Regions from separate parts of the Homo sapiens genome. Here regions 1 and 3 are each linked to region 2. The links come from fine-mapping of genetic effects on gene expression. A gene starts in region 2. Each other region holds a variant in brackets. All regions are shown on one strand. Distances are between the middles of the regions. Region 1 overlaps GTPBP4 (GTP binding protein 4). Region 2 holds the start of GTPBP4 (GTP binding protein 4). Region 3 overlaps GTPBP4 (GTP binding protein 4).

Evidence for each region. PIP is the estimated chance that this variant, and not a neighbour inherited with it, causes the effect.
Region 1: its variant is fine-mapped to the expression of GTPBP4 in NK cells (Gilchrist 2021, PIP 0.95). The same link has a PIP of 0.9 or more in B cells, CD4 T cells, monocytes and monocytes after LPS.
Region 3: its variant is fine-mapped to the expression of GTPBP4 in whole blood (TOPMed, PIP above 0.99). The same link has a PIP of 0.9 or more in NK cells and blood mononuclear cells.

What each region holds. Positions count from the first base shown.
Region 1 is chr10:1,016,103-1,018,858 of GRCh38, forward strand. GTPBP4 (GTP binding protein 4) reads left to right here. Exons shown (of 17, transcript NM_012341.3): 17 at 973-2,756. The coding sequence ends at 1,125. Among named protein-coding and RNA genes, the nearest start is that of IDI2-AS1, 5.2 kb to the right of the region's middle. The variant C/T (reference allele first, on the strand shown) is at 1,485.
Region 2 is chr10:987,205-989,960 of GRCh38, forward strand. It overlaps GTPBP4 (GTP binding protein 4), which reads left to right and starts at 1,230. Exons shown (of 17, transcript NM_012341.3): 1 at 1,230-1,323. The coding sequence starts at 1,276. It also overlaps a transcript of LARP4B not described here.
Region 3 is chr10:1,008,800-1,011,555 of GRCh38, forward strand. GTPBP4 (GTP binding protein 4) reads left to right here. Exons shown (of 17, transcript NM_012341.3): 11 at 159-236; 12 at 730-781; 13 at 1,621-1,721. Among named protein-coding and RNA genes, the nearest start is that of IDI2-AS1, 12 kb to the right of the region's middle. RefSeq lists enhancers at 1-319, 320-820. The variant A/T (reference allele first, on the strand shown) is at 1,127.

The DNA of each region.
Region 1 (2,756 bases), 29 kb after region 2:
CTCCTTGGCACTTTGCTTTTGCGGAGGGTGGCCAGAGCATGGTCTGACAGCACTAGCAGTCTGGGCTTAGACCCTGCTGTCTGAAGAGGGCCAGGAAGTGGCCACAGCTGAGCACCAGGAGGCCTCAAGTCCAGCAAGCCCCCCATGGGAGGAACAGCAGAGGGAACTCCTGGGTTGATTGGCGGGTGATCCTGCTCATCCTTAGGTTGCAGGATTGTTCCCCCCAGGTGGAGAGCTTGAGTCACATTTAGTTTATTTGTAGCGTCTTTTGGCAAAGACACTTAAGATGGACACAGTCTGTCTTGCTGAAACGTCCTTTTATTAAACACAACAACTTTTAGTTTCAGCGTTGTGGTAATGGAGATGCAGGAGAGTCTGTGTATAAACTGCAGTCTCCTTCATGGAAGCCTGAGCTTCACTCCTCTGTGCCATTGCCATCTTGAAACCTGGCTGTTAATATTGGCATTGCCACTTGTCAGTCAGACCTGAGGAAAACAGGTTCATGGGCCTGAGTCCTTAGCTTGTGTAAGAGGGAGTTAAAACAGATGTGTGCTAACCTTCTAGGTCTAAAGTGTATCTAGTCCTGGGTATAAAGCTTGTCCTGGGTATGATTTTCATCCAGTCTTTATACAAAAATACTCATTGAGTTCCTGCAGATAACTGTGCTGGGCTTAAGAGAAAAGAGATGTAACAGGGATAACTGTGCTGGGCTTAAGAGAAAAGAGATGTAACAGGGGTAACTGTGCTGGGCTTAAGAGAAAAGAGATGTAACAGGGGTAACTGTGCTGGGCTTAAGAGAAAAGAGATGTAACAGGGATAACTGTGCTGGGCTTAAGAGAAAAGAGATGTAACAGGGTCTCTTCGCTGAGCAGACCTGAGCCATTAAACAGATTGTTACCCAGTAGTTGAAATTCAGAATGGAAAATTGGTTTTAAGTAATGAACATACTTTATTTTTTTCTCCTCCTTTTAGATGGTGAAGAAAGCCAAGACTATGATGAAGAATGCTCAGAAGAAGATGAATCGGTTGGGGAAGAAAGGGGAGGCGGATAGACACGTGTTTGATATGAAGCCCAAGCACTTGCTGTCTGGGAAGAGGAAAGCTGGTAAAAAGGACAGGAGATAGTATCCGTTTGGTTGGCGTGGCTTCGCTAGAGTGTTGCTGTTTATTTCCTGGTTTGGCACAGTATGGTTTCATGAAATTGGAGCTCTGTATAAACTGAAAAAGACAAAATAAGTAAAGCACTTGTTGCTTTGCTGAAAACTATGGTTAACCCTATATAGGTGTGGGAAATTTTTGTCACTGCATAATATTACAAATATTTTGAGTAGACAGTGTTTCCACATTTAATGGAGTATCAGTTGCTTCAGATTTTCAGAACTGGGAAGATTTACTGGTTTAACTAGGTTGTTTTTGATGGAGAAAAACCTTATTTTCTTTTGTAAGAGCTGGGAGCAAACACGTTTATGAGTGTGTCGGAATCC[C/T]GTGCTTAAAATACGCTCTTAAATTATTTTCTAGTCTTATTTTACAATGTCTCATTGTAGTCTGTCTTCAACTATTTTATCCAAAATAAACCTCCAGAAGAAAGTAGTTTTCATTTACTTAGCTCATGTTTTGGTTTAGTTATAGTCGCTATGGATTTGGCCAAATAAAAAGGCAAACAACATGACATTTCTATTTTGTTTTAAAGCAAAAATACTTTTGGGGGAGTAAAATGTTGCTGGAGGCATTAGGCAATTAAATATGGGCATTCTCCTATTTCTGTGGCCCGTCCCTGAAGTTACATGTTCAGTAAAACACAAAAACACCGCCAATGCCACCTCAAAAGCACCTGCTGGGGAGCGTTGGGGTGAAGAGCTGTGGGGTCGGAGGGACCTGCCCAGGGGTCCGTGTGCTCCTGGAGCTCCAAAGACACACAGGGGTCCAAGAGCCACCACGGATAAGTTATCAAGTCACACAATCAACATTATAGCTGAGGAAAGGACTTTAGTTAATCACACTTCTGGATTACATGTGGCAATTTTAAAAATTTACCAGGGCTGGGCTGGGCGCAGGGGCTCAAGCCTGTAGTTCCAGCACTTTGGGAGGCCGAGGTGGGCAGATCAGGAGGTCAGGAGTTCGAGACCAGCCTGGCCAACATGGTGAAACCCCATCTCTACTAAAAATACAAAAATTAGCCATGCGTGGTGGTGGGCATCTGTAATCCTAGCTGCTCGGGAGGCTAAGGCAGGAGAATTGCTTGAGCCCAGAGGCGGAGGTTGCAGTGAGCCGAGATCGTGCCACTGCACTCCAGCCTGGGTGACAGAGAGAGACTCCGTGTGAAAAAAAAAAAAAAAATACCAGGTCTGGTTTTTGAAATTCTTTCTCCGTATTAAACACCAAAACTTAACATATAGTTTACTTTGTGTTAAACAACAACAGTATGGCCGGGCGCGGCAGCTCATGCCTGTAATCCCAGCACTTTGGGAGGCCGAGGCAGGCGGATCACGAGGTCAGGAGATCGAGACCATCCTGGCTAACACGGTGAAACCCCGTCTCTACTAAAAATACAAAAAATTAGCTGGGTGTGGTGGCGGGCGCCTGTAGTCCCAACTACTTGGGAGGCTGAGGCAGGAGAATGGCTTGAACCCGGGAGGCGGAGCTTGCAGTGAGCCAAGATCGCACCACTGCACTCCAGCCTGGTCGACAGCGAGACTCCATCTCAAAAAAAAAAAAAAAATACCAGGTCTGGTTTTTGAAATTCTTTCTCCGTATTA
Region 2 (2,756 bases):
GCTTCCTTTAGAAGTGCCACAAAGATGTAGGAGGTATGCTTATCCGCCTTGTGACACAAAAATGGAAGCATAGTTAATAGATGAGAAAAGCATGACCCAGAATGATTTTCAATATTGGAATGCTGGGAATTTATGAGAGGTATTTTCGCGTAAGAATAATAGGACTTGTTTAAAAGGATTGGAGAGTGGGGGGCATCCCAGATGCGTGAGAAGCAGTATAGCTAATGGTTAGAAGCAGGTTTGCTGGAGCCAGGCTGCCTGGGTTCAAAGCCCACCTCTGCTGCCTGTTAGCTTGTCAGCTGCACAACCACGGGGTGCTTTCGAGCCTTGTGTGCCTTTGTTTCCCCATGCACTTCATGAGGCTGTTGCAGAAATTAAACGAGTTAATATATAGTCAGCAGCTCTGAACACTGCTTGACTGAGTCAGCCCTACCTAACGTTTAATTTAAGGGATGTGGCCCTGGGTTCCCAAAGGGAGCGGCCACTCTATTCACAAACATAAAAGCAGTAAAGGCTCCATCCTCATCAACCTTCTCCTCAGTTGGACCCCACAGGACTGTCTCTCGCAACTGTTCCCTGGGCTCTCCTAAGGCACTGCGCGGAACCAGCTGCACCTCTTTTGCCTTAGATCAGGCTTTCCCTTCTCCGCCCGTTTTGGGATTTAACAAGCACGAGAAAGCAGGGCTGCAGGGAAGCCGCGAGGGCCTCCTCACCACGGCCCGGGATCAAGTCCCACGCGCGAGGCCGGGGTAGGGGCGTCATCTGCTCCACACCCAGAGGCTGGGCACGCCCCGCACGCGCGGCTTCCTCCTCCTTTGCGGGGCTCGCCGCGACCCAGGACCCCCAGACTCCCGGATCCCCTAGACCCTCTGGACTCCTAAGCCCCGCAACTCCCAAATCCCAAGACCCCGGACCCTCCAACCCTGGCCCAGGGCGCGTGGCTGGGGGCCTGAACCCGCTCCAGAAACCCGCAGGGCAGTCTGTCGGAAACCCCCGCTTTACTCAGCAGGAATTTAGTCTCCGCGCTCCCCCTAAAACCCGGGCGTCCTCTCCTCTGTACCCTCGCTCCTGAGGCCCTCACACGCCCTCCGTGGCTGACCTCCAAGCCGGGCGGGTGCGCTGTGCGACGCGGAAAGCGCCGTAGAGCACGCAGAACACGATTGGCTGAGCTCCCGGAAGTGACGTACCTCAACCGCCCGACAGTGGAAGTCCCACCTGCGCCCGACGGCGGAAGTTCCGGGAGTGCCAAGTACCCGCGTGCATACGGCTGCCGGCATGGCACATTACAACTTCAAGAAAATTACGGTGGTGCCGTCCGCCAAGGTAGGCGGCCCCGGGAGGGCCACTGCAACTTTCGCGTTCTCCTCAGCTGGGTCCCCGGGGAGGGTCCGGGCCTGTAGCCGTGGGAGAGCGGTCGCCTTCCGCTCGCCCATCCCCCGCTCCTGGGCCTGACCGTCTGGCCGCGTACTCGGGATCATTTCCCCTCCCCCAGCAGAATCCGGGGTCCACCAGAGATCGGATCCCCCAGAGACCGGGGTCCACCTAAGACCGTGGTCCACCCAAAGACTGAGGGCCCCCAGAGATGGGGGTACACCCAGAGTTGGGTTCCCTGGAGGGGCCCCGGGTGACGATGTGGGCGAGTGGAGGGGGACCCCGACATGTGAGGGAGGAAGCGTTCCGTGGTCCGTGATGAGCCTTCGGATTCTGGGTTTGGCGTAGCCCCCTCCCCTCTCAGGAATCCTGGGTTCGTTGTTCTCGTGATTTAACGTTTCATAATTTTTAAGTCATTCTCTTTCACTGTTAGATTTGGGAATACCTGTTCCTTTTCAGACCATAGTAGGCCCAGACTAAATTTTTACAGCGTTGGTTGGTGTGGCAAGAATGAGTCAACAAGTGTTGAGTATTAGGACTTTTTTTTTTTTTTTTTTTTTTTGAGACATAGTTTTTCGCTCTTGTTTCCCAGGCTGGAGCGCAGTCTCGGCTCACTGCAACCTCCACCTCCCGCGTTCAAGCGATTCTCCTGCTTCAGCCTCCCGAGTAACAGGGATTACAGTCGTGCACCACCACACCCAGCTAATTTTCGTATTTTTAGTAGAGACGGGGTTTCACCACGTTGGCCAAGCTGGCCTCGAACTCCTGATCCCGGGTGATCCTCCCGCCCCGGCCTCCCAAAGTGCTGGAATTACAGGCGTGAGCCACTGCGCCCGGCCCTAGTATTAGGACTTTTAAGAAGTCACGTTTTTATGTAGTGAACATTCGATTTGGGTCGCAATTACACAGACATTGACGGGCAACTGGAGCCTCCCAGGGACTCCTGCACGAGAGGGAGTTACTGAAGTCCCTGCAGAGTGACTGTTTTCCCCTCGTCAGTGCCTCCTTTTCTTCAGGTCTCAAGGACGGGATGAGCTTGCCTTGGAAAGCTTTGTGGGAGTCTCGTATTTTACCTTCATAGCAAAAGTTGTTTCCCCACTTCTCTCCACCATTTCTTATTTCTTCCTGACAGTTGTTCTGGCACATCTCTTGATCGATTGTAGTATTTTCTTTCTTTCTTTTTGAGATGGAGTCTCGCTCTGTTGGCCAGGTTGGAGCGCAGTGGTGTGATCCTGACTGCAGCCACCGCCTCCCAGGTTCAAGTGATTTTCCTGCCTCAGCCTCCCGAGTAGCTGGGACTACAGGCATGCGCCACCAGGCCTGGCTAATTTTTGTATTTTCAGTAGAAGTGGAGTTTCACCATGTTGGCCAGACTGGTCTTGAAC
Region 3 (2,756 bases), 22 kb after region 2:
CACTCCTCTCCCCTAAAATAATCTGTTGGTTGTTCATTGGTCTGGGTATGGTTTTCTGTTCCCCTTGCACGTAGGGAATTTGTTTCTACTTTTTCGGCTTTGTAAGTTTCTCATTCAGCAGGCATTTCACATAAATATTTTATATGGGATCTTCTCAGGAGAGGCCCCCTTTCATCCCTGAAGGAGTGGTGGCTCGCAGGAAGAGGATGGAAACTGAGGAGTCCAGGAAGAAGAGGGTATGCTGCCGAAGCTCTCGCCCAGTGTTCTCATGGGGGGAGGCAGGCTGTGTGTGCCCATCGTGGGGGCCTGGGGCATCGAACAGGAGCCGCGGGTGCCCAGACACTGGCCCCGTCAGGCTGCGGACACAGCAGTGAGTCCCCCTGCAGAAGCCTCTCTCATGGGGCTCTTTGGCCTGAGGGAAGATGGCCGTGAACCAAATGCATGAGTGGGATAGACAGTCCCCAGATGGCCAGAAACAGCCTCTTCCTACCAGAACCTAAAGGCCGGCCCCACAGACAGGGAGATAAGAAACAGCCTCTTCCTACCAGAACCCAAAGGCTGGCCCCGCAGACAGGGAGATAAGAAACAGCCTTCCTACCAGAAATGGAAGGTGAACCCCACTGATACTGAGAGGATTGGAGAAAAGATTGTTTCAAGTGACAAGGGGCAGAGCATTTCTGGATCTGAAAGGCAAAATGAAGCTGATGATAATTTCTCTTTCTATTGCAGGAACGAGATCTTGAGCTGGAAATGGGAGATGATTATATTTTGGATCTTCAGAGTAAGGGCCAGAGTGTGATCATTATTATAAAATGCCAATTGGACGTGAAGTATTTCAGAAAATGGGGGAAAGACTTTAATAAGTAATAAAAGTGTTTCAGCCTATTTGTCAACTTTTAATTTCTTGAAGATTAAAAGTTGCATCCTGAGGGCCAGGTGCAGTGGCTCACGCCTGTAATCACAGCACTTTGGATCCCTTATGCCCAGGAGTTTGAGACCAACCTGGGCAACATGGCAGAACCCCGTCTCTACAAAAAATACAAAGATTAGCCGGGTGTGGTGGCATGTGCCTGTAGTTCCAGTGACACGGGAGGCTGAGGTGGGAGGATCACTTGACCCTAGGAGG[A/T]CAAGGCTGCAGTGGGCAGAAATTGTACCTCTGCCCTCCAGCCTGGACGACAGAGTGAGACTCTGTCTCAAAGAAAGGTGCATGCTGATAGCACTCAGTGGGGGTTCTTCCATTGTTTCCTGTTGTTTTGGGATGGTGGGGTGATTTCTGTAGCTTTCTCCACGTGTGGGTGTTGAATGAGGCTGATGTGTTGTTTCCTGTTGTTTTGGGATGGTGGGGTGATTTCTGTAGCTTTCTCCACGTGTGGGTGTTGAATGAGGCTGATGTGTTGTTTCCTGTTGTTTTGGGATGGTGGGGTGATTTCTGTAGCTTTCTCCACGTGTGGGTGTTGAATGAGGCTGATGTGTTGATGCTGCTGCATGTGGAATTGCACGTCGTGCTCTCTTCTGCAGTGGAGTCGTTGATTTGCCGTCAGTCACAACTCATTTTGCGCACGTAGTACTTGAAGATATTAAAAACTGCTGTAAACGTAACCACCTTTTTTTTAACTTTAGAGTACTGGGATTTAATGAATTTGTCTGAAAAACATGATAAGATACCAGAAATCTGGGAAGGCCATAATATAGCTGATTATATTGATCCAGCCATCATGAAGGTTTGTGTCACTTTTTAAATTGCGGATTGTTTTCCTTTTTATTATAGTAGTATTGCTGGAAGATAGCAGCATGGCTTCGGCTCAGCTGGGCCTGTCCGCTTCATTCTGCACCCCTCCATCCTGACTCTGCCCCCTGTACCACTTCCCCACCCTGAGACTCTGGTGGAGATACTGGCCCTGGCTGGGCTCTGCTATGCTGGCCTGCCCCCTTCCCGCCGCCTCCACCCACCCACCCCGGACACTCTGGTGGAGATGCTGGGCCCCTTCGTTATCCTGCACCCCTCCATCCTGACTCTGCCTCCTGCACCTCTTCCCTGTCCCGACACTGGTGGAGATGCTGGGCCCCTTCATTCTCCTGCATCCCTCCATCCTGACTCTGCCCCCTACACCACCTTCCCCACCCCGAGACTCTGGTGGAGATGCTGGGCCTCTTCATTCTCCTGCACCCCTCCATCCTGACTGTGCCTCCTGCACCACCTTCCCCCCCACCCTGTGTCTCCGCCAGGCCCTGGATGGGCTCTGCTGTGCTGGGCCCTTCATTCTCCTGCATCCCTCCATCCTGACTGTGCCTCCTGCACCTCTTCCCCCCACCCCGAGACTCTGGTGGAGATGCTGGGCCCCTTCATTCTCCTGCATCCCTCCATCCTGACTGTGCCCCCTGCACCACCTTCCCCACCCTGTATCTCCGCCAGGCCCTTAATGGACTCTGCTGTGCTGGACCCTCTTCCTTGGGGGCTCCGCTGTGTCACATCTTTTTCCTGCCTCAATCCCCTCCCTACTTGCTTTTTCTTAGCATATAAAAGTCCACAAGTTTTACTCATCTTTTTAAAAAACGAAAACATCCTTAGACCGTGTCCTCCATTAGTTGCTATCCTGCCTTCTTCTCTCAGCTGAGCTGTCTGAAACATGCTAACATGCTTATACAATACTTGCTGTCCTGCCTTCTGCTCTCAGCTGAGCTCTCTGGAACATGCTTTTTATACAATACTTGCTGTCCTGCCTTCTTCTCTCAGCTGAGCTCTCTGGAACATTCTT